Linked DNA regions of Homo sapiens. The protein of the gene in region 4 purifies or fractionates together with the protein of the main gene of each other region. This does not show direct contact. Each region holds a gene or a part of one and is shown on either strand. Other genes may lie near its edges. The genes, in order: ZMYM6, PLEKHG3, CAPN2 and LSP1.

The links.
Region 1: the proteins of LSP1 (region 4) and ZMYM6 purify together in Homo sapiens (affinity purification with mass spectrometry; 2 studies listed by BioGRID and IntAct, with this or other methods). This does not show direct contact.
Region 2: the proteins of LSP1 (region 4) and PLEKHG3 purify together in Homo sapiens (affinity purification with mass spectrometry; 2 studies listed by BioGRID and IntAct, with this or other methods). This does not show direct contact.
Region 3: the proteins of LSP1 (region 4) and CAPN2 purify together in Homo sapiens (affinity purification with mass spectrometry; 2 studies listed by BioGRID and IntAct, with this or other methods). This does not show direct contact.

Annotation. Positions count from the first base shown.
Region 1 is NC_000001.11:35,007,944-35,014,966, forward strand, and holds part of ZMYM6 (zinc finger MYM-type protein 6), read right to left. Parts: intron 6,946-7,023; coding exon 6,754-6,945; intron 4,639-6,753; coding exon 4,488-4,638; intron 4,063-4,487; coding exon 3,947-4,062; intron 3,094-3,946; coding exon 2,815-3,093; intron 2,655-2,814; coding exon 2,504-2,654; intron 982-2,503; coding exon 809-981; intron 1-808. UniProt on the Homo sapiens protein: Plays a role in the regulation of cell morphology and cytoskeletal organization.
Region 2 is NC_000014.9:64,728,403-64,735,425, reverse strand, and holds part of PLEKHG3 (pleckstrin homology domain-containing family G member 3), read right to left. Parts: intron 6,431-7,023; coding exon 6,333-6,430; intron 5,184-6,332; coding exon 5,114-5,183; intron 4,785-5,113; coding exon 4,738-4,784; intron 4,628-4,737; coding exon 4,477-4,627; intron 4,389-4,476; coding exon 4,257-4,388; intron 4,066-4,256; coding exon 3,883-4,065; intron 3,713-3,882; coding exon 3,620-3,712; intron 3,332-3,619; coding exon 3,245-3,331; intron 3,000-3,244; coding exon 2,966-2,999; intron 2,624-2,965; coding exon 2,525-2,623; intron 1-2,524. UniProt on the Homo sapiens protein: Plays a role in controlling cell polarity and cell motility by selectively binding newly polymerized actin and activating RAC1 and CDC42 to enhance local actin polymerization.
Region 3 is NC_000001.11:223,743,525-223,750,547, reverse strand, and holds part of CAPN2 (calpain-2 catalytic subunit), read right to left. Parts: intron 6,449-7,023; coding exon 6,330-6,448; intron 5,243-6,329; coding exon 5,109-5,242; intron 3,552-5,108; coding exon 3,383-3,551; intron 1,510-3,382; coding exon 1,426-1,509; intron 1-1,425. UniProt on the Homo sapiens protein: Calcium-regulated non-lysosomal thiol-protease which catalyzes limited proteolysis of substrates involved in cytoskeletal remodeling and signal transduction. Proteolytically cleaves MYOC at 'Arg-226'.
Region 4 is NC_000011.10:1,884,070-1,891,092, reverse strand, and holds part of LSP1 (lymphocyte-specific protein 1), read right to left. Parts: intron 6,814-7,023; coding exon 6,770-6,813; intron 6,594-6,769; coding exon 6,512-6,593; intron 4,362-6,511; coding exon 4,227-4,361; intron 3,857-4,226; coding exon 3,779-3,856; intron 3,620-3,778; coding exon 3,530-3,619; 3' UTR 3,517-3,529; intron 3,107-3,516; exon of another isoform or gene 1,949-3,106; coding exon of another isoform or gene 509-1,948; exon of another isoform or gene 1-508. Other genes in the region: PRR33 (proline-rich protein 33), read left to right, coding at 509-1,948. UniProt on the Homo sapiens protein: May play a role in mediating neutrophil activation and chemotaxis.

The DNA.
Region 1 (7,023 bases), on a different chromosome or scaffold from region 4:
TAATATGGGCTTTGGAGTCATAAAGATTTTGATTCATTCAGCAAATATTTAATTAGACATCCTTTGTCTTAAGCACTGTGATTGGCCCTAATTATATAATCATGAAAAATATATTACCCTCCCCCAACAATAAAATTCTATTTTTTTAGAGGTAGAAAAACAAACAGTGATTTACCAGAGTGTTATAGATGCTGTCTTGCTGTCACCTACCAGCTTCCTCAAGAGCATATTACTTAACTTCCCTGGACCTCTCTCCTTTTCCTTATTTATAAAATGGCAGTAATATACTTACCTCTTGGGACTATGGTAAGGATTAAATGAAATGACACTTACAGAGCACCAGACATGTATTAGTGGTTCAATTAACTGTAGCTACCATTGTTAGCCTTTCAAAAAGTTAATCTTTTTAAAAATGAGGTAGGAATGGTTGCCAGCTATTGTCCTTTGACCTATGAAGTGAGACAAGGTCTAACTTCAAATTCCTCAGAGTAACCTGAATGAGAGAGCCACTTCAGGCAACATTATGTGAAGTTCTAACCTGAAAGAAGTCAAATAAGGGCAAAGTGCCTCATAAGAAGGCAAAAATAAAAGGAACATATCCAACCAACAACAAAGTCTGCAGAAATCCTATACTTTTTATCCCAAAGATTTCCTGTTTATATTCAATTGAATTTTTCTATTATAGCCCATAACTTATTTTATCCAGTGCTAAACACCAAATTTTTCTTCACATAATTTGAATACATTTTAAATAAAAACAATTTGCACTGATTTCAGAAAGCCAAAAAAAGTATATTATCACATTTACCTGATAAAACAGAACTGTAAATTTGGACATACAATCTTCACAACAAAACTCTTCTAACTTGCCCTCCAATCGATTTTCTACCAAATTTGGGGATGTCTGTGAACAGTAGCTGCACATCTTACAGTAGTTTCCCCATCGTTCTCCAAAGTCACGGGCAGAGAGGAATTTGCAAACTGAGGATCAGAGGGATGAAAGGAAGAAAAATCAAATTTACATTAACTGAGGAGGTATAATAAGTTTCTGTGGTCTTAGATATGAAACTTTAAGCTAATTTCTAATACACAATTATTTGCCTCTAGATTACAGGACAGTCTCTATATTCACAAACCAAACTCATACCACCTTTTATTTTATTTTATTTTTTGAGACAGAGTCTCACTCGTTTTGCCCAGGCTGGAGTGCAGTGGCACAATCTCAGCTCACTGCAACCTCTGCCTCCCAGGTTCAAACGATTCTCCTGCCTCAGCCTCCTGAGTAGAGCAGCTGGGATTACAGGTACCTGCCACCACACCCAGCTAATTTTTGTATTTTTAGTAGAGATGGCATTTCGCCATGTTGGCCAGGCTGGTCTCAAACTCCTGACCTCAGGTGATCTGGCTCGCCTTGGCCTCCCAAAGTGCTGGGAATACAGGCGTGAGCCACTGCGCCCTGCCACCACCTTTTAAATATACTCTAAATATTAGGCCATTTATATTCAGAAACATTAGAGGTATAAAAGTTTTTTAAGCCAAGAAGCAGCAACTGTTTTAAGTTCCTCTTCGCAAATGAGTGCAAGAACAAAAAGATCTCTGATGTCATAGCTAAACTTATGAAGAGATTTTCTTTATTAATACCACTGATGTAATCATTTTTACAGTTTTTTATTGCAATTACTGCAACATTTAAAAAGACTGACTTTCAGCCAGGCACAGTCGCTCACGCCTATAATCCCAGCACTTTGGGAGGCCGAGGCAGGAGTACCACCTGAGCTCAGGAGTTCAAGACCAGCCTGGGAAACATGGTGAAACCCCCCGTCTCTACCAAAAATAAAAAAAATTAGCCAGGCATGGTGGCACGCTCCTGTAGCTTCAGCTACTTGGGAGGCTGAAGTGGGAGGATCCCTTAAACCGGGGAGGCAGAGACTGCAATAAGCCAAGATCATGCCACCACACTCCAGCCTGAGTGACAGGGCAAGACCTTGTCTCAAAAAAATAAACAAACAAAAATAATAAATAAAAAGATTGACTTTAAAGTGAATTAACTATAAACACAATTCAAAAAAACCTTTTTTTTTTTGGAGACAAGAGTTTCGCTCGTCGCCCAGGCTGCAGTGCAATGGCATGATCTCAGCTCACTGCAACCTCTGCCTCTGAGGTTCATGCAATTCTCCTGCCTCAGGCTCCCAAGTAGCTGGGATTACAGGCGTGCGGCACCATGCCCGGCTAATTTTGTATAGAGACGGTGTTTTTTAACAGAGATGGGGTTTCACCATGTTGGTCAGGCTGGTCTTGAACTCCCAACCTCAAGTGATCCACCCACCTCAGCCTCCCAAAATGCTGGGATTACAGGCGTGAGCCTCCATGCCCGGCCTCCAAAATACTTCTAATTACACCTTGTAAGACAAAAAGAATGTGAAAACTAATCATGGCTTAATTGCCCAAGTCGTCATGAATTATAACAACCCATGCTCTGTGAATAAAACAACTTTGTCTTTACCTTCACTACAGAATGGCTTATCAACCCCTGAGAATCGCACAGTCTCCTTTATAATTTTCTGCAGTTTACAGTAGTCACACATTGCCACAACTTTATTTTTCTTCTTGTATTCATCAGAGCAATTCTTGCCACAAAACAGAAACATTTTACCCTGCAGAGAAACAACAGTCCATTAAGAGCCAACTAAACAGTTGCTTTATCTTTAAGAACTCCTTTTCATGTCAAAGCAAATTGAGTGATCAAAATTGAAAACACAAAAGTGTTTCTACTGGATGAGTTTATATACAATCCCTTTCATGATCTCTCTTTACCTTGTAAAAAAGAAGTTCTGGTTTTGTGGCAAATAGATGGTTACAGTGCTGACACTTGAGTTTAACAACTGTATGGGTTAAAGCAACTTGCTGGGATTGTTCAGCAAGAGGTTGGAGGCTGGCTGCAGCAGAGCCACGGATGGAGCTGGGGGAAACGGCAGAGGTGTTACCTCCTCCTATTGACACTGCTGACCTGGAGGAGGGCGGGCTTACAACCACTTGGCCCTGAGACAGGGGCACCGCCGAAGAGTTTGTTCCTTTTGGCTTGCTAAATACATTCTGAATGAAAACAAATAAGGTAAAGATTTTATCAACTGAGAAATAAGATAACTTTGTACTTTTCATTTCCTCATTTTAATAAATCAAGTCTCCCACAAACATTTTTTAAAATTTTCTATCTCACAGAAAGAGTTTAAATGGTATATTTCCAGAATAAAAGGACTGAGAAATACAACATTAAAAGGTCAAGGACTGGAATTCAGGCTTTCCTGACAAAGACCTCCAGTATATGCCTCTAATAAATTAGAGCAGGCCTCTCCTTCCCCCTAAAACTTCCCCCTACCTGCACTCCCATCATCAACCAGCTTCTGATGGCTACTACGACACAATAGCTACCAGCAGTCTCTTTCTCCCTAATGCCAGGGATACTACATCAGGCATGTTCCTACCCTGGAGATTACTAAACTCTACTCTTTGTGTATGTATTGCAGAGAGGGAGGAGAAAATGGGACAAGTGGATGCTTACAATTCCATGCCAGGAGTCACTGTGTTTCTGACACAGGATGAGAGGAAGGGGTATGTGAATCCCATCAGGCTACTGTTCTTCACCATACCACCTACCCAAACCACAATCCTAGCTTCCATCTTTTTGAAGGGGAGAGACCCAAGGGAGAAAGTGGGAGGGAATGACAGTTTAGGCTAGGATCCTAAATAAAGAAGAAACTGCTGAGACCCAATATCTGGGTTCAGATATTTTGTAGAAATGACCTGGTTGGGCCCCTGGATGAAACAAATTTTTTTCTTTTTAATTCAAATTTAAACTTTCATAAGAACAGGCCTTCAGCAGTTAACACTGTGCCACAGATCGATGCCTAACAGAACCACATGCATAATGTGCTACCTTAGATCATACCTGGAAAGCAACCACACAACTGGAGCTGCAGAAGCTGTATATAGTTCCATTTGACATGGCTAGGTGATACTGAGGGATTGCTGAGGTTTTACAACTATGACATGAAACCTGGACACCTTGGTGACAAAAAATTAAAAACAATGATTAAGTTATACCAATGAACAAACAATACAAAAATGTATTGGGAGAATGAAAAAATTAAATAATCAATAATATACCAAAAAAATCAAGGAACTTTATAAAAATCTGAAATCTAACCACAACTAACCTCTATTAAGTCCCACTTACACAAAAACTAACTTGGAAATTTTAAGTGTTTTTTCTTTCCTCTCACATATGAAATTATAAAATACTGTATATATTGCAACCAAGAAAATCGGGGAAAAACTATTTTCACATAAAAGTCAGTTATTTAAAAGTCAGTCTTGGGTTTTTATTTAACTAAATAGATAAATTTAGCTTGTAACAAAATCAGAGAAAAGCAGTTACGTTTTTCTTCAATAGTTATTAAATCTATAAATTTATCAAATTTAAACATTACCTGAAGAAGTAACAGTCTTAACTCTGTAAGCAGATAAGCAATTAATAGAGCAGAAAAGCTCTGTTTTTCCTGAATCATTTGTAGTCTCAATCATTTCAGCTGAGGGCCTCAATGACTTCCCCAGGGCATATGGAGGAATTTGGGCAGAATTCTATTAAAATAAAATAACATTAGATACCTAGTACAAACATACATATTTACATATTGTTCAAAAAAGTAAAAAGAAAAGCTACCTACAACCACGGTCCTTGGTTGAAATATTTGAGCATGATGATGAAACCACACTATTGGGAGGTGGGAAAATAAGTTCTTCCAGACAACAATAAAATAGAAACTGAAGAAAATTAGTAACTATTCAGATAGAGATCTTAGCAAACAAAACACATGAATTCAAACACAAGTAATGAATTAAATAGTCATTACATACTTTTTAATCACCAATAACCAGAGAAGACCAGCTAACCCATGAACCAAAGGGTCATTCTTGGTATAGTCTTGTACATCAATCTAGAAGAGTCTACCACCTTTAAGGTTACTTAATTTGTGAGATTCTTTAGCAGGAGATAGAAATGATATTTAATGTATATTAATAGAGATCCTACACAACTACCTATTTTTCAAGCTGAGTTTCATAATAAAATCTGCTTATAAGTTTATTCATGTTTTAAGAAATAATAAAAATAGCTACCATTTACATAACCAATATTATAACTTACTGAATGCTTACCATGAGTCAGGCCCCAGGCTAAGAAATTTATATATAGTGTATCACAGAAACCTTTCAACAACAGAGTGAGGCGCTCTCAAAAATTACATTAACAAAAAGTTTAAATTAACAGATGAGCAGAAGAAGTAGGAAATTAAACTCATTTCATCAGGCTCCAAAGTTCAGGCTCCTAACCACTACACTATGCTGTCAGTGATACATTATAAGGTCTCTCAATATGAAAAGAAATTGTAGGAAAATATAAATTGTGAGGTTTCACTACATAATCTTCCTAGTAAAAAGACAGAGTACAATACTAGTAACAAAATTAGAAATGGAACTGATTTTGGGATCATATATAAAATAACATGGATTCTTTTCCTGTGAAAGTAGAACCAGACTGCCAAAAATGGCAAATCTTAAAAAAAGAGATTCTTTTCAGTGATGAATGTCCATATGTCCATTACCAACTGCTCAAAGGAAGCAACAAATCAAACTTGCTAACTGAAAAAAAGTTTAATTATCATTTACAAGATACATCTTTGTTTTTTTTTTTTGTTTGTTTGTTTGTTTTTGAGACAGTCTTGCTCTGTCACCCAGGCTGGACTGCAGTGGCACAATCTCAGCTCACTGCAACCTCCACCTCCCGGGTTCAAGCAATTCTCCTGCCTCAGCCTCCTGAGTAGCTGGGATTACAGGCGCCCGCCACCACGCCCAGCTAATTTTTGTATTTTCAGTACAGACAGGGTTTCACCATGTTGGTCAGGCTGGTCTCGAACCCCTGACCTCGTGATCCACCCGCCTTGACCTCCCAAAGTGCTGGGATTACAGGCGTGAGCCACCGCGCCGGCCTTACAAGATACTTCTTTAAGAAAAACTTTTTAAAACCACAAATTAGTAATAATTAAATTGACACAAGGTGATAATATTTAGTAACCGGCTTAATCCATTATTCATTACAATAAATAAAATTACTTGAAGTATTCTCATGAGACAGTGTTGACCAAATAATTACAATTCATTCCCAAACACATTTTGAAATGAAAAAGACAAGCTTTGTTTAGATTCACTGATTTTATCATCTTAACTCTTGCTTATGGTTTATTTATAATATGGTTTTCTTGCTATCAATACATCACAAAATATTTCATGCTCACAGAAAATCATGAAATTACATTTATGAGGCCGAGGTGTGGTTGCTCATGCCTGTAATCCCGGCACTTTGGGAGGCTGAGGCGAGTGGATGGCTTGAGCTCAGGAGTTCAACACCGGCCTGAGCAACATGGCAAAACCCTATCTCGATTTCAAAAAAAGAAAAGAAATCACATTTGTAAATTCTTAGCTATGAAGGGAGCCTTAAAAAAGGGACCTATTTTACCTATATCAACTTACCACCACAATCATCCCTCACACCATCAGAATCTATCCCATTTTCTGGAAGGGAAATCACATATCAGGATGGACTAATGGGAGGAGCTCACTCTCATTTTGTAGTTCATCCCTGTGCAGCCAAATCAGAAGGAGTGGGCCTAAGTACATGCAACAAATAGATATTCATACCTGCTTGTATGCCGTGACACTTGTTGAACTAAAAACCTTCTGGGATTGGCAAGGACCAGAGCTACTATAGCAATAGCTCCCACAGTTCTCACAACAGTTCATGGTGAGGTTGTTTGTAGAGTGAAATTTTGAAAAACAGGCATCACTACAAAGACCATGTACCACATTTTGATATTTAACTTCAAATCGAGTCTAGGAAATAAACACACACATACACACACAAAATAAGCAGAGCCAGTTAAAAAAAAATCTCTTTCAGCAGAATCCCAA
Region 2 (7,023 bases), on a different chromosome or scaffold from region 4:
TGTCCAGGCTGGTCTTGAACTCCTGGACTCAAGTGATCCTCCCACCTCAGCCTCCCAAGGTGCTAGGATTACAGGAGTGAGCCACCACACCTGGCCTGAACGATCGCTTTCTAACAGACAGGAGGGGAAGAAGGGCTACTACAGACAAGCATACTTAGACCAATGAAAACAAATACTTCAGTGTTACAGAAGAACCGTGAAGAGGGGCACGACACACCAAACACAGGCTGTCTCTATGGCAACCCACAGCCTCTGGGGCCCCTCAAGCATCTGGCAGTTCACACACCCTAAGTGATGCTGTAGCATTAACTCCAGAAAAGGAAAGGTTCAACGGTGGCCAGCACCTTCTGTTTTAAAAGGCTCAAGAGTACAAAACATGCTTTAGAAAGATGTCTATTTCAGCTAGGCGGGATGGCTCATGCCTGTAATCCCAGCACTCTGTGAGGCCGAGGCGGGTGGATCACCTGAGGTCAGGAGTTCGAGACCAGCCTGACCAACATGGTGAAACCCTGTTTCTACTAAAAATACAAAAAAAAAACTAGCTGGGCGTGGTGACGCGTGCCTGTAATCCCAGCTACTCGGGCGGCTGAGGCAGGAGAATCACTTGAACCCGGGAGGCAGAGGTTGCAGTGAGTAGAGATGGTGCCACTGCACTCCAGCCTGGGTGACAGACAAGGAAGGAAGGAAGGAAGGAAAGAAGGAAGGAAGGAAGGGAGGGAGGGAGGGAGGGAATTTCATAACTGTTAAAACATTTTTTAAATATTTTTTGAAAAAATCCAACTCTTAGTATTTACAGGCTAAAAATCTCAGCCATGTGGAAACTTCAGCTCTTTAAAATGGCTCATTTCCTGAGTGCCTTGGACACCTAAAGTTTGGGGGCTTTTTGTAACAGCTTTATTGAAATATAATTCAAATACAATTCACCTATTTAGAGTGTACAATTCAACGGCTTTAAGTATATTCAAAGAGTTGTACATCCATAGCTAAAGTTTCGATGCTAACACTAGGATAGAGCTACTATCACTACCACCAACGTTATCACTTGCTGAACACATCAGTGTGCTAGAAGCTTCAAATTTTAAGGTATGGCAAGTTGAGGAGGACAAGAAGAGAATTACAGGAGAAGAAAAGAAAAGAGAAGAGAAGAGAAAAGAAAGAGGGCTAGAGAGAAGAAAGCAACACCCCTATTTGGAGCTTTTAACTATAAAAACCATAAAACTTTTGCAACCATAGCAAGGTGGCCTAGGGCTCAAGATCCACCCAGAGCAATACCAACAACATAAAACCACAAAAGCCTTCTATAAGCCACTGCTCCACCTTCTCGAAGGCTAACACCCACATGTCAATCCACACACACATTCAGGGGACCCACAGGTCATCACCAATCAAAACCCAACACATCTGTGGGACCCAAGCCAGGACACCACTCTCAGTCACTTTAGAATCCTTCTCTCCCAGGGTCTTAAAGACAATTCTCACCCCAACTCCCACCTTGGGTATATGTTTGGCAGACACCTGGCTTAAGCCAGACCTGTCCTTGGGCCTTGCACTAAATAGCAACGAAAAAACCAATTTTGAAAACACACACACCCATCACCACGGAGTTTAGAATAAAAGCAAGGTTTTCTCTTTTCAAATAGACGATTCATTCCAATAATCCAAGAACACCCTAGCAAGTCCAGGAATGGAAGAAAACTCAAGGGAGGAAAATGGAACCTTTTCCTGAGACCCAAAATAAATATTTCCTGTCTGGGTTTGGTGCCACTGAACTCGTTTTCCCCGGGTCCTGCTTCTGCTCGGTTGTTCCAGGACTGGGCTGGGCCCATCCGCCATGTCCAAGTGTCACTCCTGAATGACTTGGTGTTGGTATTCCAGAGAGGCAAAGGAGGGAGGGGGCTAAGAAGGGGTGCCAAGGCCGGAGCGAGCAAGTATTCCTAGGGCCTTGAAAAAGGTGGGCTGGACGGGTACAGTGGCTCACACCTATAATCCCAGTACTTTGGGAGTCCGAGACGGGCGGATCACCTGAGGCCAGGAGTTCGAAACTAGCCTGGCCAACATATAGTGAAATCCCATCTCTACTAAAAAATACAAAAATTAGTTGGGTGTGGTGGTGCACGCTTGTAGTCCCAGCTACTTGGCAAGCTGAGGCAGGAGAATCGCTTGAACCCAGGAGGCAGAGGTTGCAGTGAGCCGAGATCGAGCCACTGCACTCCAGCCTGGGCAACAGAGCAAGACTCCATCTCTCAAAAAAAAAAAAAAAAGAAAAAGAAAAGAAAAGAAAAGAAAAAAGTAAGAAAAAGGTGGGCTCCAGACCTGGTAGGCAACGAGGGCCCAGGGGTACCTGGTGTGGGGAGCACCAGCACAGGGAGAGGATGAGCCCCAGGTGTGTGTCCAGCCCCGCTCTAGCCTTTCCCAGGGTTTCCGCAGAGGTGAGAGCCACAGCCCTGGACACTGCCGCAGACGGTCCCCAGTCTGGGCAAGGGTGTGAGGGAGAGGCCTCCTGCCTCCACAGCCCTTCTCTTACCAGATTGCCGGCGCCCCTGGCGCACATTGGTGGACACCTCATCCTGGGAGGACCAAGCCTTCTTCAGCCGCTCTGGGCTGCAGCGGTACCGATTGGGATCTGCACCCAGGAGAGAGACGATCAAGCTTTTGATTCCCAATTGGCCTTGGCCTACCCTAGACCCTGTCCATAACCAGCCAGACCTCTATACCCACCCAGCTCCAGGGCCAGGAGCCTCCAGAGCTCCCTCCATCTTCCAGCTGGGAGCTTCAGGCACTGAGAGTCCCACCGCTCAGCAGGAGAGCATCCTTAATCATGTAGTTCACCCCCCAGCCCTTAACAGGAGACCCCCGCCCTCCCTGCTCCTGGAATAAAATTATCAGGTAAAGCTTCCCCAGGATGCAGCCTGACCTAGCAATGTGCACGATTAGGGACAAAACAGGCAGAAAAGGGTACACTTACAATAGGAATCCATTTCCAAGATGGCTTCCTTGGCCTGAAGGGGAAGGAAACACACCTGGTTATTACCTTACCATGTGCCGGCCTTCCCTGCCCATAGGACCCACTGTTGCTGTACGAGGACACCCCACAGTGCTGCACCAAGGCCCGGGGCATCTGCTGTACTGACACTCACTGTCCACTGGAGCCCAAATCCAGAAGGTGAGCCCCCAATGGACCTTGCAGAGCTGGCTCAGAGGAGCACATTCTCCTTGCACACAGTCAGGAGCTGGGGGAACTCACCTTCTGGGGAATGGTGGCATGGTGGTTCTCTAGGATGAGCCTCTTGATGTGGTGAGTCCAGTTCCGTTTCTCCTCCACTGTCTTGGCCTGGGAGGACCCAAGGGAAAGGGACCCAGTGGTTATCATTACAGGCCTGAAGCTGTCTAGCATGGACAGTGCTTCCACCCAGGGAGAAAAAGTGGGGCCATGCTGGGGCCTCTGTGAGGTTAACCTGACTCCTCACTTTGACCCTGAGAGGTGCCTGCAATGATCCTTGCCTCACAGATGGAGACACTGGGGCTTGGGGCAGCTAGGTGAGCAGAGGAGCCAGGAGTCCCACGCAGGTGTCCCCTGGGCATCTTGTTCCCTAGCCCCTGAGCCCCACCTTCCCCTCACCTGGATGCTGTACTGCTGCTTGCTGTGCTTGTAGTGGGTGACAGTGAAGCACAGGGAGTCTCTGGTGCTTTCGATCAGCATCAGGGAGGAGCACTAGGGGCAGAGGGAAAGGACAGTCAAGCACAAGGTTGACAGCCTGGGGAAGCAGGGAGGGTGATCTCAGAAGGGTGGTGCTGGAGCCCCAAGAAGCAGACAAGAAGGGGAGCCCAGATCCTTTGGGAAGGAGAGAAGATGGCAGAGGAGATGGGGCAGGGCCTGGTTACCGGGATGTTGCCCTTGTAGACAAAGTGATCGCCCCGCTTCTTGGTGATAAGCAGTGTTTTGTCAAAGAGGAAAAAGGTCCTTTCATTGCGCACGCGATGCACGCGGAATGTGCCCTCCAGGACAAGCTCCCCGTAGGTGGTCAGGTCGGGCCCCTTCCAGTTGATGAGGAGTGACTGAATCTCCTGCAGCAGAGGGGCCCCAATCCCTAGAGTCAGGCCACTGGGGCCTTAGGAGGCTCTGCAAACCCTGCCACAAAGGCTCCCCCAATGCCACTGCCCAGCTCATCCCAGCAGGGTGGCCACAGTCCCTCTTCCCAGCGGAAGCCTGGCCCACCCAGCCCTGCCCCTCCCCCAGCGTCCCAGCCCCAGAGCACCTGGAGCCGGACCGCGTGCTCATGCCTCCTCTTCATGTCGTTGATGTACCAGGCCACACAGGTCATGGTGTCAATGGCATCCTCCACCACCTCAAAGCCATCCTCTTCTTCATCAAAATGCTTGGCAATTTCCTGCGCAGAAGATAGACGCTTAGGTGCCCCTGACCCGAAGGCCCTGCCCTCCCCAGGCCCTAGGTGCTTGGGAGGACCGAGGGGCTACCTGGAGCAGCAGGTGGTACTTGAGGATGCGCTGGACTGGCTTCAGCAGGTAGGAGCCCAAGGGCAGCGAGTGCTGTAGCAGCTCCTGCCGGTCCCGAAAGAACTTGGCCTGCTGCTTGTCCCGCATGCATTCCGTCAGGGCGGCCACGGAGCTGGGAGTGGGAGAAGGGCCAGTCACCACCTGGGGAAGGCCTGGATGAGGAAGTGGGGGGCTCTGGACTCACCAAATGGCTCTGCCTTCCCTCTCACCCCAATTACTCACTTGGGGTAATTGTTGCAATACTGAGTGTAGATATCAAACTCTTGGCTCTAAGAAGAGATCAAAAATAGTGATTTCAGGGAGATTCTCATTTGACAGTAAAGATGGTGGTAGCAGATAGGCCCCTGGCCCCCAGAGCACCCTCTGTCCCCTGTTCCCAAATGCCTACAGAGCCATCTTTATACCTATTTGTCAAGGACATCCCATCCACCCAGCAGCCCTGGCTCCCCTCAGAACACCCTTCTCATTCAAGATAGAGCACCCAGGACTTTCCCTGGAAAGGAATCCCCAGGACTCAGATGTCCTCTTATGCTGGCAGTTCTTGTCTCTCTGAGCTCTCAGCAAGGTAGGACAGAGGCAAGGACCCAGCCCTTCTTACCCTTTCCACAAAGCAGCTGGCCACAGCCACGGGGTCACTATTGCAGCTGTCCAGGTCTCTGAGGAGCTGGCTGGGTGAGGGGAGAGCAGCCACTGTACCCTCTGCAGTCAGAGGACAATGCCCCTCACTGCCCCCTCCCCAACCTCCCAAACCCTGACTGACAGCCAGCCCTATTGCTTTGCTAAAGAACTGGGGCTTCTAGCCTCAGAGGGAGTCCTGCCCCAGGCAGCAACCACAGAAAGTATCCAACACAAAGCAGCCACAAAGCAGGAAGTCAGGGAGACCTACAGGCTCAACAAGAGGGAGATGAAGAGGGGACCCCCATACCCACCTCGGGAGGGGACACAGCTCCTCTGCAGGCAGAAGGAGTCAAACACACAAAAGCAGAGGATTAAAGGGTGAAGGAGAGAGAATGGGGACTAGCAAAGGAGCCAGGGCGCCCAGGATGTGGGACATGGGGAGAGACAGGTGAGTCCTGGCACCCCTAGAAACACTGCTCCCTGCCTCCTCCCTCTGTGCTCCTCCTCTTTTCCCAACCCCTCACCATTGGCCTAAGTCCTCCCTGCACCCTGCCCTCCCAGACTTCTCCAGCTTACACAGCCAGAGCTCCCTCTGCCCATCTTAAGGGGCCTGGGATACGATTCTTCCTGTCCTAGCACCGCTGTTCCCTCAAGCCCTGCCCCTCCAGAGCAGTGCACTTTCCCGGGGGAGTCTGTGGTCCCAGGCAGGAGACCCATGCCTTTTGCCCTGACACAGCCCCTGGTCAGGCCTTGTTTGGCTTCCCACATGTGTCTTGCCTGGGTTGTGCAATCCACTAATAGGTCAGATCATCTCCAGGGAGCCCTTGGGGTCAGTGGAAAGGAGGATAAGAAATTAACAGATGTGCAAATGGAAAATGAAGATGAGAAGGACAGGGAAGGTTCTCTTCCACAGGGAAGAGAACCAGTGTGCAAGGTAGGGCCCAGCAGCCCCTTGAGGGGGCACCGGCTCAGGATGGACCCAACATGCACACAACCTCAAATTACCTCCCCGTCTGCCCTTGAGAGAAAGCAGATCAGCCCAGGGCACAGAGATGGACAACCCTTCCCTGTCCTCAGAGATCAGGCCCCAGGCCCACATGTCACAGGCCCATGAGACCAGGGACATCCAGGGTTCCTCCCTAGGCCCTGAGGTGGGCCTCGCAGGCAGAACATGGTGAGTGTCAGGCCCATTCACACACCTGTTCAGCGCGTAGATATTTTCTATGTTCCCAAAGAGGGCGCTGACCTGTTCTGGCTTCAGCAGCCCGGGTGTGTCAATGATCTTCAAGAGGTAGTCCTGCGTGGAGGGAGGTGGTCAGAACCTAGCCCCCGGCACAACCCTGCCCACTACCTTCCCTAGCCACACCTCGTTTCGGCCCTGCTGTAACACCACTTCACGGACATTGCCTACTGTGAGACAGTGTCCACCCCAAAATTCATGTCCACTTGGAACCCCAGAATGTGACTTTATTTGGAAATAAGGTCTTTGTGGATGCCATTAGTTAAGGATCTCAAGATGACTTCAGATAGGATTTAGGGTGGGCCCCAAATCCAGTGGCTGCTGTCCTTATAAGAGGAGAAGGAGGACACAGAGAGACACAAAGAAAAAGGTGATGGGAAGGTGCTGGGCCGCATCTCCAGGCCAACAATGTCAAAGACTGCCAGGACCCCAGAAGCTGGATGACAGGCATAGAATGCCTACTCCCTCAGAGGCTCTGAAGGGAGCCAACCCAGCCAACACATTGATTTTTGGACTTCTGGCCTCCTGAACTGAGTGAGAACACATTTGCTGTTTTAAGCCACCCAGTGTGTGGTCATTTGTTAAGGCAGCCCTAGGAAACTAATCCACGCCCTGAGCCAGTGGGGCAGAGGGCTTCCTCAGTGGCAGCC
Region 3 (7,023 bases), on a different chromosome or scaffold from region 4:
AGATCACTGGTGATAACAGGCACATGCAGTGAGTGAATCTGGATTGAGTCCTGGATGGGGTTGGGGTGGGTCGCCAGAAAGGACATTTTGGGCAACTGGGAAAATGTTAGTATAGACTTTATAATAGATGACACTACTGAATTAATGTTATTTTCTTAGGTGTGGCAACAGTAGAGGAATTATGTAACAGAATGTCCTTATTCATAGGGAATAAATGCTGAAGTATTGAGGAGGGAAGTGTCATAACGTCTGCAACTTACTTTCATATGGCTCAAAAAAAGTGCACACATAGATAAAGCAGACATGGCAAATGTTAGCAATCGGTGAATCTAGGGGAGTGGCAATTGGATAGTTATTATGTTAGTCTTTCAACTTTTCTGTATACGTGAAAATTTTCAAATAAAAAGACGTGTGTGTGTGAGGGGGTAGTTAAAAAAATCAAGGTTAAAAAAAGAACACTGGACATGCAGAAGATCTGCGGTCTAGACTGGGTTCTGTAATTAACAGTGAACTTGAGTTGCTTGATAATTTTTTTTTTGAGACATGGTCTTACTTTGTCGCTGAGGCTGGGGTGCAATGGCATGATCATGGCTCACTACAGCCTCGACCTCCTGGGCTCAAGTGATCCTCCCACCTCAGCCTCCCGAGTAGCTGGGACGACAGTGGCATGCCACCATGCCCAGCTAACTTTTTTTTGTAGAGACAGGTTCTTGCTACGTTGCCCAGGCTGGTCTTGAACTCCTAGGCTCGAGTGATCCTCCCACCTCGGTCTCCCAAAGTGTTGGGATTTCAGGTGTGAGCCACCATGTCAGCCCATAATATTTTCAATAACAACAGTGATCACAACAGCAAGGACAGCTACCTCCTTATATATGATGTGTGAGTCACCTCTGAGCACTTTACATATATTAACTTGATTGAATCGCCACGACCTTCCAATGGATATTATCATTATTTCCATTTTTTAAATGAGGAAACTAAGGGACAGAGAGTTCCAGTAATTGGCCCAGGCCACACAGCTGGTAAGAGGCAGTCAGATTTGAACATGGGCACGAATACTTTTACGAGATCAAAAGAGAAAGCACCTTATAGAGTATAAAACACTATGAAGATGCATTGTTTTATTATTTTTAGCTTATCAAAATAGTAAGGTTGTAACTGTAAAACAGGGTAACATCTAAAACAAGTAAAACCAGGGCCCCTGGCGCCGGCCACTGCGGCCACCAGGTGGCAGCGCGGCGCACCCGGCGCCCGAGCTGCGAAAGGGACGCCCTTCTCCTCCCGCGCGGAACTTCAGGAGTGCGGGGCCCGAGTGTAAACTGGACCACCGTGGGGCCGCGCGGGCCCCTGGGCATCACCACAAACTGTGCCTGTGGCCATCGTGTCAGGACAGCAGGACCCCTGCACATCCGCGCCGGCCGTTACCTCCTCGGCTCCGGTGACCGAGTACGCGTGCCCCTTCACCAGCTTCTGAAACGTGATGGCCTCCGAGTCCGCGGCGCTGGTGATCTGCAAACACAGCAACCGTCAGACTGGCCGCACCCGCTCTCCCTTCCTCCCGGACTCCCTCGCTCCCTCTGTCCTACTGCCGGGCGGGACCGCCGGACGCACTAGCGCAGCGGCCGAGGCCTGGGGTGGGAGGCTCAGGGCTGCGCTTTCTTGCACTTGGAGAACCTTTCCTACCCCGTTCAAATGCTTGAACGCCGAGAATACCAGAGAAAAGGCGGAATGCAACCCTCTCGCGGAACGAGCACAGGCATTCCCGTGTGAATAGCGCATCCACGGATTTCTGCAGGCTGGGAAGGGCGGGAAAGGGCGCACGGCCGAGAGAGGGCTGGAGGGGGTCCTCGATGGCGCAGGGAAAGGGCGCACGGCCGAGAGAGGGCCGGAGGGGGTCCTCGATGGCGCAGGGCTGATACCCAGACAGCCTTGAGTGGCCCAGGGACACTGAGCACACCCTCGCCCCACCACCAGCCCATGCTCCGTGGTCTGGCCCAGCCCAGCTGTAGGGTTTATACTAGGACGGTTGTTTATTCCGGTCTGAGTCAGAATTTGCTTCTGTTTTAAGAACGCCTCACAGCCTCTCCTTTCCCCTATCTATTCTGATGAAGGTTGAGCCTGGGAAGAAGGGCTGGAGCAGAAAGGGTCTTCTGCCTCAACGTGTTCTGCTGATAAACTTTGAGAATTCCTGCCTAGGGAGTCTGACCTAGATTTTGGCTCCAAAAGCCAGGGCTTCTTATCTCTGTCCCCCGCAGAGACCAGAACCTGGATGGGACAGGGCTCAGAGGTTGGGCACAGCCTTTGCTCCAAGGCTCCTGGGCACAGTGCCCACCTCCCATCCCCTGGTGAGCGTTGCCAGCAAGGCTATTATGAGGAAATCTTTCCTCCTCTTCCTTCCGAAGTCTCCCACGGGCCTATTAGCTCTGCAAGAGTGCAGGGGAAGGCTGCACAGCACTGCAGATGGAGGGGAAGGTGGCAGGGGCAGCAGGTGGCAGGGGCTCCCAGGGAACCTGTGGTCAGAGGGGTGGGGGTGATTCAGAGCAGGCTAAGAGTGGGAAGTGGACTGAAGACAGAAGGGCTGGAGGCACCATCACCCCATCCATTACACCCCAGACAGCTTGACTTTTGCCTAGCAACCCTTGGCTTCCAGGTGATGAGCAATAATGGTAGACACTGGGGTGCTCAGAAACCAATACCTCTAAGAGATGGCACTTTGAAATGCTAAACTGAAGAAGCCTCAAGATCTCTCTGACCTCCCCTTTCCTTCTGTCTCTCGATCCACTCTCCCCCAAAGCACAGGAGGAAGCTATTCTCTGAAGTTCCCTCACCTGCCTAAAGTCTGGACCTGCCAAAGATGAAAACAATGACGTCTGGTCCTTTCCATGAGTTATTATGAACTGAACTCATATTGCAGGAAGAAAGACAAGTCTGTCAACATGGCTAGACAGACTTGTCACAAACCACTGTCTGCTCTGCAGGCCCAACAGACTTTATCCCAGACCATTTATGTTCTTTAAGCCCAATGAATTCCCCTAAAAATCATTTACGACATCCCTAAAATCATCCGCACCTCCCCATCTCCCTTCCCCTAAGAGGAAGGGAATATAACCCTCTGTATCCCAATGCGTGGTAGGGAAATCTCTTGTGATTCTCCCCTGTCCACATTCATACATTTGTATGCCATTTCTTGTATTAGTCTTCCTTTTGCCAGTTGATTTTCAGCGGACCTTCAGAGGGTGGAGGGAGGTTTTCCTTTGGCCCCTACGTGGACGAGGGCTGCATTACGTTGTACACAGGAGCAGTGGGTTCCCTTGGGCACTGTGGGAGCCTCCCTTCAGCAAGAGCAGATGGGGTGAGGCTAGGGAAGGCAGCCTGGACTTACGTCGATGGAGCAGCCAAGGAGAGAGCCTTTTTGCAGAGCTTTCTGGATGATCTTGAACAGGTTGGGAGGGGGCTTCTTCAACTCATACCACTCAGCAATGCCTCCGGTGAAGTCTTCGAAGCCCTCAGTGGTGGCACCCCCTGATAGCGCTTCATAGCATCCGTTGATCCTACAAGAGGGGATTAGACGCTGCCGCTACCCTTGACACTACTGATGCTATAATCTCTCAAACAGCCACCCCCTAGTACCGTCTAGATTTGATGCTCCAGGGACCCCCTGCTCACATTCTCCTTGGCCTTGTTCCCAGCTCGGGGTGCTCAGGAAGGCAAGGTATAATGTCCACAGTTACCATTTCCCTGGTATTTTGTGTTTTAAAGAAAATCTCAGGCCGGGCGCGGTAGCTCATGCCTGTAATCCCAGCACTCTGGGAGGCCGAGGTGGGCGGATCACTTGAGGTCAGGAGTTCAAGACCAGCCTGGCCAACATGGCAAAACACCATCTCTACTAAAAATACAAAAAAATTAGCTGGGCATGGTGGTGCATGCCTGTAGTCCCAGCTACTTGGGAGGCTGAGGCAAAAGAATTGCTGAAACTCAGAACGTGGAAATTGCAGTGAGCTGAGATCATGCCGCTCACTCCAGCCTGGGTGACAGAATGAGGCTCCGTATTAAAAAAAAAAAAAAAAAAAAAGATTCTCGTAGAACCTTAGAGTCGGAAGGACCTTAGTGATTTTCTGGATGAACCTCCTGTATTGATTCCTTCTACATCCTGACAAGAAAGGGGAGGTCTACTAATGGGTCGTTTGGCATTGATAGCTTAAAAAAGGACAACCATTCAATAATGGAAGCAGTTTCTCTGAGAAACAGGCACGGTGTTGGCAAGGGCTTAGTGCTCCTGACTGCTGATGCTGGAGTCCGGTGGCTTCCCTGACCCCAGTATTGAGCAGTGGGACTTAGAAGCATCCGTCAGGCTCCAGGTTCTCACAGCTGACTCCTCCTTCCTGGATTGGGACTGTAAGAAACAGAAATCCACTTGCTGCTCTAAAGTGGGGTCACTTTAATGGAAGGAGCCGGGCGGCACAGCCAACATGGGGCCATTGTGGAGAGGGGCTGGTGTGGGGCTTCTTACTGAGAGTGGGCAGCCCTGAGCACTGGACAAACTCAACTGTGGGCAACCTGGGTGGGAAGCAGCTGTGCGGAGATGGGGAAGCCATTGCTAATCAGTGACATCATCTATTCTGGGCAAGTTTCCTACCTCTGCAATGAATAGTTCTGCCCATTGGCAAAAATTCTGCTTTTTTAAGTTGATACAAATGTGTCCTGTCAAGGAAGTAGAGCTCCTTCTCAAGTCCAGCACAATCAGTACCATAACTTGTTCCTGTGCATTTGGTTAAAGATGGTGATAGACATCATTTATCAGCGTACAGTGCAGCCAGGCACCCTGCATGCACTATCTCCTTGCATTTAGAGCCTAATTTTGGCCAAAGAAGTCCTTCTATAGAAAAGGACTTCCCACTCAAAGTAGTCCTGGAGTAGTTCTACTGATTTTTATATTTTTAGTAGAGACGGGGTTTCATCATGTTGGCCAGGCTGGTCTCGAACTCCTGACCTCAAATGATCCACCCACCTCGGCCTCCCAAAGTGCTGAGATTACAGGCATGAGTGAATTTTTTGGAATCCAGGGCATTGGGGGAAGGCCATGGGGCCAGGGGAGGATGGCAACTTACTTGGCGTATGCCTTCTCCAGCAGGGCGCTCCAGAACTCGCTCCCTTCGGCTGAATGCACAAAGAGCAGCTCCCCGTCCTTGGTGGGCAGCCTGTCATCCACCACCACCTCCACCCACTCGCCGTATTGCCAGAACTGCAGAACAAGAGAGGTGGGCTGCAGGAGGAGCTGGTGGCAGCACTGGGACTCTGAGCCTCAGCTGCCTCTGGCTCCCCTTGCCCTGATCCCCTGGGATAGGTTCCATGAGCGCATCCTGGGAGGAGGTGCTCCCTTAACTCTCCTATGCAGGCCAAGTCCTCACTAAAAAAGCGAAGACAGAGGCGCATGTCCATCCTTTCAAATCCACACCCGCCTCTTTAGCATTCTGCCCTGTACCTTAGGCTGTTTTTTTTTTTTTTTGAGACCAAGTCTTGCTCTGCCCAGGCTGGAGTGCAGTGGCACGATCTCGGCTCACTGCAACCTCTGCCTCCTGGATGCAAGTGATTCTCTTGCCTCAGCCTCCCGAGTAGCTGGGATTAAGGGCACGTGCCACCACACCCGGCTAATTTTTTTTGTGTTTTTAGTAGAGACGGAGTTTCAGCATGTTGCCCCAGCTGGTCTCGAACTCCTGGGCTCAAGTGATCCACCCACCTTGGCCTCCCAACCTCTGCCTCCCAGGTTAAAGTGATTCTCCTGCCTCAGCCTCCCAAGTAGCTGGGATTACAGGCCTGCACTACTACGCCCAACTGATTTTTGTACTTTTAGTAGAGATGGGGTTTCATCATGTTGGCCAGGCTGGTCTCGAACTCCTGACCTCAAATGATCTGCCCACCTCGGCCTCCCAAAGTGCTGAGATTACGGGCATGAGCTACCGTGCCCAGCCAGCTTTTTCAAGTATTATTTCTCATTTACCGGCATAAAAGGAGGAGAACTTCAACGTTTTTGTCTCAAACATCAAATAATACAGTTTTTTTTTTTAAACTTGGGAATTAGTTCCTGAACACCTTGCTCTACCTCCCTTTTACATGTCCCAAGAAACCACCCAGGGCCATCCCAGCCGGGTCTCACATCCTGGCCACGGGTAAGCCAGGAAGCTTCCTGCTCTCGCCCAATGTCCTTTGTAGAACAGTATTGGTCTTGGGAGTCTGCAAACACCAGGGACTGATGAACCCAGCCAAGCCAGAAGACTGTTCCTAGCCCCCTGGACCTGTTGAGGAACCACCTGAGCCAACCATTAAGTTACCTGGAAGTGAAAGATCCCTGCATAGTTTTCCTGGAAGCTCTGGTTTAGGGGGACGACTCGAGCCAGGATTTCTTCATTCAAGGTGAGGGAGGCAATGGCTGCCAGCAGCCAGCAGTCACCTGTGAACACAGCACAAGGAGCTCTTATCAGAGGGTCTTAGAACCAGGAGGATGTTAAAAATCTTGTCTCCACCTCCAGGGGCTTAAAGCCTAAGACAACCTGTGAATAGACAGAGTGAAGTTTCAGGCAGTCCCCCATATGAGGGTTGGGTCAGAGGGTTTGGGGGCTATTAGGTTGGTGTAAAAGTAATTGTGATTTTTGCACCAACCTAGTATTTTGAGGGAAATGCAAAGGGAGAAATGTTTTTGCTGTGTTGTGGTTGGGCAGAGATGGGAAATTTCATTCCCTGAAAGACCCAGAACTCTGGTGGCTGAACTGTGCCCTCAGAGCCCAGCCTTGCACCTGATTCGCAGCAGATGCTCCACAGTGAGAGAATGAAACCAGCGCAGCTGCAGAGGCTTCTGAGCACACAGGCTTTGAATGGGAGTTTGGGCTGGGTGTGGTGGCGTACACCTGGAGTCCCAGCTATAATACGAATACTTGGGAGGCTGCGGCAGGAGGATCCCTTGAGCCCAGGATTTCAAGGCTGCAGTGAGCCATGATTGCACCACTGCACTCCAGCCTGGGCAACAGA
Region 4 (7,023 bases):
TGGCTCGCAGCGGACGCGCCTGTGGTTGAGCCGGCGACAACAGGGCGCCCCTCACGTGTCTGGGGGCAGCCGCTCTTCCAGCCCTGGGCTTGGCCAGCAGCTGGCCAGGGGCATGCCTGTCACTTGGGGCTCACCCGCGTCTCCGTCTCCCACCCCAGCCCACACGGTGTTGCGGCCTGACCCAGGCTGTGTACTTGGGGCCTGCTTTGTGCTGGGGTGGCATGGAGGACAGAGCCCTGGAGGCAGGTTCTAGCCCCATCCCTGGAGGGACTCGGCCTCTGTGGCCTCATTTCTACACTAGGGTGATGGTGGGGCCACCCCAAAGTCCCCAAGGCACAGTCGAGCTCAGCATGTCCCTGGCAGGTTCTGGGTGCTCAGGAAGCAGAATACTCAGGCCTCCACACCCCTGGCCCCAGGTCCTCCTTGGACCACAGGAGACACAGGCCTCCCACCTCAGGAGGGAGGAGGGCTGGCCTGACCACTGTCCCTCCCACCCTAGGACACAGTCATGCTCATATCGGCTGCGTCGATGGCACCCGAGGTGTGCGGCCCAAGCCTCCAGGGAACCCCTGGACCCCCACCGCCCCTGCTGCCCAAGCCAGGGAAGGACAACTTGCGTTTGCAGAAGCTCCTGAGGAAGGCAGCCCGGAAGAAGATGATGGGAGGCACACACCTCGCTCCACCCAGGGCCTTCCGCACCTCCCTGTCCCCCGTGAGTGAGGCCAGCCATGACCAGGAGGTCACAGCCCCGCACGCTGCTGAGGGCCCGCACCCCGCCGAAGCCCCACGCCTTCCTGAAGCCCCACGCCCCGCCGAGGCTCCCCGCATGGTGGCTGCCCTACCCCGCTCCCCGCACACCCCCATCATCCACCACGTGGCATCACCCCTGCAGAAGTCCACGTTCTCCATCGGCCTCACCCAGCGCAGGATTCTAGCTGCTCAATTCAGGGCCATGGGGCCCCAGGTTGTAGCCTCGGCCCCAGAACCTACCCGGCCCCCCAGTGGCTTCGTCCCTGTCTCTGGGGGTGGGGGCACCCACGTCACCCAGGTGCACATCCAGCTGGCACCATCCCCACACAATGGGACCCCTGAGCCTCCCAGGACAGCCCCAGAAGTGGGATCCAACAGCCAGGATGGAGATGCCACCCCAAGTCCCCCCAGGGCCCAGCCCCTGGTCCCAGTGGCTCACATCCGCCCACTGCCCACCACAGTCCAGGCTGCCAGTCCCTTGCCTGAGGAGCCCCCTGTACCACGGCCGCCACCCGGCTTCCAGGCCTCAGTGCCCAGAGAGGCTAGTGCCAGGGTTGTGGTGCCCATAGCCCCGACCTGCCGCTCGCTGGAGTCCTCACCGCACAGCCTGGTCCCCATGGGCCCTGGCAGAGAGCACCTGGAGGAGCCCCCGATGGCTGGCCCCGCCGCTGAGGCCGAGCGAGTGTCCAGCCCTGCCTGGGCCTCATCCCCTACCCCACCATCAGGCCCTCACCCATGCCCTGTCCCCAAAGTTGCACCCAAGCCCCGGCTCAGTGGCTGGACGTGGCTCAAGAAGCAGCTGCTGGAGGAGGCCCCAGAGCCTCCGTGCCCAGAGCCGCGGCAGAGCCTGGAGCCAGAGGTGCCCACCCCCACAGAGCAGGAGGTGCCTGCCCCCACAGAGCAGGAGGTGCCCGCCCTCACCGCACCCCGGGCCCCCGCCTCCCGGACCTCCAGGATGTGGGATGCCGTGCTGTACCGCATGTCAGTGGCGGAGGCCCAAGGGCGCCTGGCAGGGCCCAGCGGTGGGGAGCACACCCCAGCCAGCCTCACCCGCCTGCCCTTCCTGTACCGGCCTCGCTTCAACGCCCGGAAGCTGCAGGAGGCCACCCGGCCCCCTCCCACAGTCCGCTCCATCCTGGAGCTGAGCCCCCAGCCCAAGAACTTCAACCGCACAGCGACTGGCTGGAGGCTCCAGTGAAGTGGCCAGAATGGCCCCCAGAGCCCAGGACCATGGGATGGACAGAAGAAGGGGCTGAGGCTCTAGCTGGGGGCCCATAGTTGCTGCATGAAGATGCACCAGGGCCCAAGGGGCATGGGGTGCAGGGCAGCCTGGGAAGGGCACATGGGGTGCTGAGGGAAGTCTGCATGGTTAGGAGGGTGGTCAGGTGGACGGGGCAGAGAGGACGAGCTGGAGCCCCTGGGCTGCAGTGGTGTGAGGGGAACAGAGAAGGGGTCTGCGTCGGGATGTAGGATGGGGGCCTTGGGATGAAAACTTTAGGTAAGATGGCAGAGGACTGCATCTACTGACCTAGCCCAGGCTCCTCAGGGGCCTGGGCCTCTCACTGATCCTCCCTTTTGCTGTCACCTTTTGCTGTCAAAGGTTTGGGGCCAGATCTCTGCTTGCTGAGGCATGGGTGCGGTCAGGCTGGCTTGGCCATCGGCGTCAGGAGCAGTCAGCAGTTTTGCTGCCTGTGCTTCCTGATGGCAGAGCCAGATCCTGGGACTAGGGTGCAGGGGGGAGCCCTCAGCCAGCGTGGGACTTGGCACCAATACAAGTGCTCAGGGGCAGGCAGGGAGGGGCTCATCAGGGGTGGAGGAGGGCCCAGCGTGACCTCTCTCTCGGCCCACCTCTGCTTCCCCTACCTGGGCTGACAGCCTGAGGGGGCAGAACTCGAGGGATTCGCTGGTGGGACAGCGAGGGTCTCAGCACTGGCCATGCCCAGGCTTTGACAGCTGGATGAGGAGGGAGCCCTCAGTCCCAACCCTATGGGAACAGCTTGGCCAAGCGGGACAGAGAAGGGGCTGTGGCCCTGGTGGGGAGAGTGGAGGGGCCTACTCAGCAGTCAGCCAGGCTCTGGTGGGGGTGGCCAACCACAGGAGAGGGACACAGAGGTACCAGAAAAAGCCTCTGCCACAGCTGCTTGAGAGTCAGGGTTTGGCAGGGGAAGATGGTAGGAGGACAGCTGCCCCACCCTGTGGTGTGATGGGTGCTGGAAATGGAGCCTGGGGCCCAGGTCACTAATAAATGTGTGTCTCACCATGGCAGGAGTGGCACTGCTCTGTCTGCAGCATGGGATGGGGAGGGCATCAGGACCTCTGAATCGCTCTCGGCTGGGACAGGGAGTAGGACCTAAGTTCCTGCCCCTCTATGGACCCTCAGCATACAGATGGTCAGGGAACCTGGGCTCCATGCCACCTGCTTCCTTCAATGCTAGCCCTGTGGTGGCCAGGCTGCCCCTCACTTCCCTCACGAGCCCTGCTGTGGCTTTTGGGGAGTCCCAGATGGGAGCCTTGAGCTTCCCTAGTGGAGCAGTGGCTGAGCCGGGCTGACTCTAGTGAAATGAGCAGAGAGTTTGAATCTGGTATCAGGTGAGAGAGGCAGCATCTGCACAGGACTGGGAGACTGAGCTGGTCTGGGTTCTGGCCAACTCGGAGTCCACCCTTGTAGCCTGCAACAGGGCTCCAGGCAGCCTCCAGGTTGCCAAGTTCCCAGCACAGTGCACGTGTGTGCACCTCATCCCCTTCTGTGAGTTGCCAGGGACTCACCGAGATGGGACGCCTAGGGAGCCGGGCCCCCTTCCACAAGCACCTTCTCATACTTCCCATGCCCGGTGGCCACAAACTTATACCTCTTCCCAGATGGGGTGCTCTGTTGGGAAAGGAGACCAAGAGTGAAGGTGAGAGCAGCAGAAAGGAGATGATGCTGCCTCCGCCTCTGGGAAGCCCTCCCAGATGCACAGAGGACAGTCCCTCTTTGCCCTCCCCTGCTGCACCCACCCTGCCTGCACCAACCACATTTAGGCTCTACCTTAATTGTTGATGAGGTCTTGGAGCCTCCCTTCTGCTCCCAGAGGCTTTTCTTGCTCATGTCTCCAGCCACAATATCCTGGGGGCAGCAGAAGGGTATGTCACAAGGGCAGACCCCTGGATCTTGGGGAGTAGAAGCCCTGGGCCCTTCTCTCCCGCCTTGCCTTACCTGGCCAGGGGGCCTGGGATCTGCCTACCTAAACTTTTTCTGTGTGATCCCAGTGGAAGAGGCAGGGAAAGGAATAAAGGTGCCATCTACCTCCACTCGGACAACACAGCCTTCTACACCAGCAAGGGTGAACCCAACCCTACTGCAATACCTCAGGGTTCTGTATACCCACATTCATCCTGGACAGTCCCATGCTTGTCTTAACAAGGAAACCCGGCCTGCTACTAAACTCCCAGGCGCTGGCTCTGCAGCCCAGCCTTGCCCCTGGAGGGGACCTTACCTTGCAGGACGGAGTCTTGGCCGCAGACTGAGCCTGTACCTCACCCGTCTCCCACCGACTCTTGGTACTGGCCACAGCCATGCTGGGCAGCTCTATGGAGGCCTGGCGGGCTAGCTTGGGGGTCCGGCCAGCGGTCTGCAGAGGAGGAAAAGCATCAGGATTACCTTAGTGGACAGCCACCGTGGTCACATCAGAGGGTCACACTGGGCAACCGTCTGCTTTGTGTTTGTGTTTTCCCTGGGAGCGCTTTCCCAATGCAGCCCCAGAGTGGGGATCACTGGAAAGATGAGCCTTCCTCCATTCGATGCAGTTGTGAGACACCTCCCTGTCCTGAAGAGCATCAGGGAGATGATGGCGCACAGGACAGATGTGGGTCTGCCTCCATGCTCCTCATGGGGTAGGGCTGGGGGACCATGGGATGGATGGAGGGACATTGAATGGATAGAGGGACAATGGTTAAATTTCAGAGTATTGGTTGGATGGAGGAGCATTGATTAGATGGAGGAGTATTGGTTGTATAGAAAGGTGTTGATAGATGAAGGAATATTGATTGGATGGAGGAGTACTGATTATATGAGGGAGTGTTTGTTAGATGGAGGGGCATTGATTGAATGGAGTAGTATTGGTTGGATAGAGCCGTATTGGTTCAATGAAGGGGCATTGATTGCATGCAACGACGTTGATTGGATAAAGGAGTATTGGTTGGATGGAGGGGCACTGGTAGGATGGAAAGGTATTGACTGGATGGAGGAGCAGTGAATGAATGAAGGAGTATTGATTGGATGGGGAAGTATTGGTTGGATGGAGGAATATTGATAGGATACAGGAGCATTGATAGGACGGAGGAGTACTGGTTGGATGGAGAGGCATTAATTGGATGGAGGAATATTGGTTGGATAGAAGGATGTTGGTTGGATAGAGGAACATTGATTGCATGGAGGAGTACTGGTTGGATGGAGGAGTATTGGTTGGTTGAAGGGGGATTAATTGAAATCAGAAGTATTGCTTGACTAGAAGGGCGCTGATTGGGTGAAGGAGTAAAGTATGGATGGAGGGGCATTAATTGCATAGAAGAGCACTGATTGGATGGAGGAATACTGGTAAGATAGAGGAGTGCTTGTTGGATAAGTGAGTACTGGGTGGATGGAGGGGCACTGGGTGGATGGAGGGGCACTGATTTAGTAGAGTGTTGGTTGGATGGAAGGATACTGGTTAGATGGAGATGTCCTGATTAGATAAAGAAGTATTGGTTGAATAGAAGGGCATTGATTGGAAGCAGAGGCATTGATTGGGTGAAACTATTTTGGTTGGATGGAGGGAAATTGATGGGATAGAAGGCCATTGATTGGGTGCAAGGCATTATTGGATGGAGGGGCATTGACTGGATGAAGTTGTTTTGGTTGGCTGGAGGGGAATTGATTGAATGGAGGAGCACTGAATGAATAGGGGTATTGATTGGATGAAGGTGTATTGGTTGGATTGAAGGGAGTTGGTGGATGAAGGACTATTGGTTGGATGCAGGGACATTGACTGGATGGAAGAGTATTGGATGATTGGATGGAGAGGTACCGATTGAATGGAGGGGCTGGCATGTGGGACTGGCATTGGTTACATGGTGAGCCATTCATTGGATAGATGAGTATTGGTTGGATGGAGGGTATTGGTCAGATGGAGAAGCATTGATGGATGGAGGAGAATTGATTGGATGGGAGGGACATTGATTGGATGGAGGGACATTGGATGCAGAGGCACTGATTGGATGGAGTAGTATTGGATGGAGGGATGAATCTTGATTGGATGGAGGGGCACTGATTGGATTAAGGAGTACTGGTTGGATAAAGGGGGATTGATTGACTGGAGGAATATTGGCTGGATAGAGGAGCATTGATAGGATGAAAGAGCATTGATTGGGTGGTGGAGTACTGTTCCGAGGGGGGCATTGATTGAATGGAGGAACACTGAATAATTGGAGGAGTATTGGTTGCAGGAGTATTGGTTGTATAAAGGAACATTAATTGGATGCAGAAGCATTGATAGGATGGGAGATTATTGGTTGGATGGAGTAGCATTGATTGAAAGGGGGGGCATTGATTACATGGAGTGACATTGATTAGATGGAGGGGCATTGATTGGGTAGAGGGGCACTGACTGGATGGAGAAGCATTGGTTGGATAGGGTGTTGGTTGAATAAGGCGGCACTGATTGGATGGAAGGGCGTTGGTTGGATGAAGGAATGGTGCCAGGATGCAGGAGGGACCTGACAGCAGAGGGGAGCCAGGTCATACCTCGATGGCCTGGGTGTATTGTTCCAGCCACTGATCAATCTTGGAGATGGGCAAGTCTGGCTGGGATTTCTTCACACTGTTACTGGAGGGTAGAAGATGTGTCAGGCCCCATGTCTCCCACAAGGCTTCTCCCAACCTGCCCAAGCCTCTCCCAGAGCCCCCCTCGGTCTCCAGATCTCTACCTTGTGACTCCCTTCAACCCCCACTTGGTTAAACCTAAGATCTGAGCCCAGAAAGCAGACAGACAGACAGACAGACCTCTTCTCTATGGAGCGGTTTAGGGACTCGGTCCTGTCGATGAGCTGCAGAGGGTGGAGAGAGACACAGGCCTGCAGCAGCCGAGGTAAAGCCCACCCTCCATCTCCCCAGCTACTCCAACCACTAATCCAACCCCCAACCCTTATATCATGGGGGTTCGCTGAGCACCGGGCAATGGGGGGATAGCAGACAAAAGCCAGGCCTGGGCCTGGTCTTCCTGTGGCTGGCATGTGGGATTGGCCTTTTGGGTATGA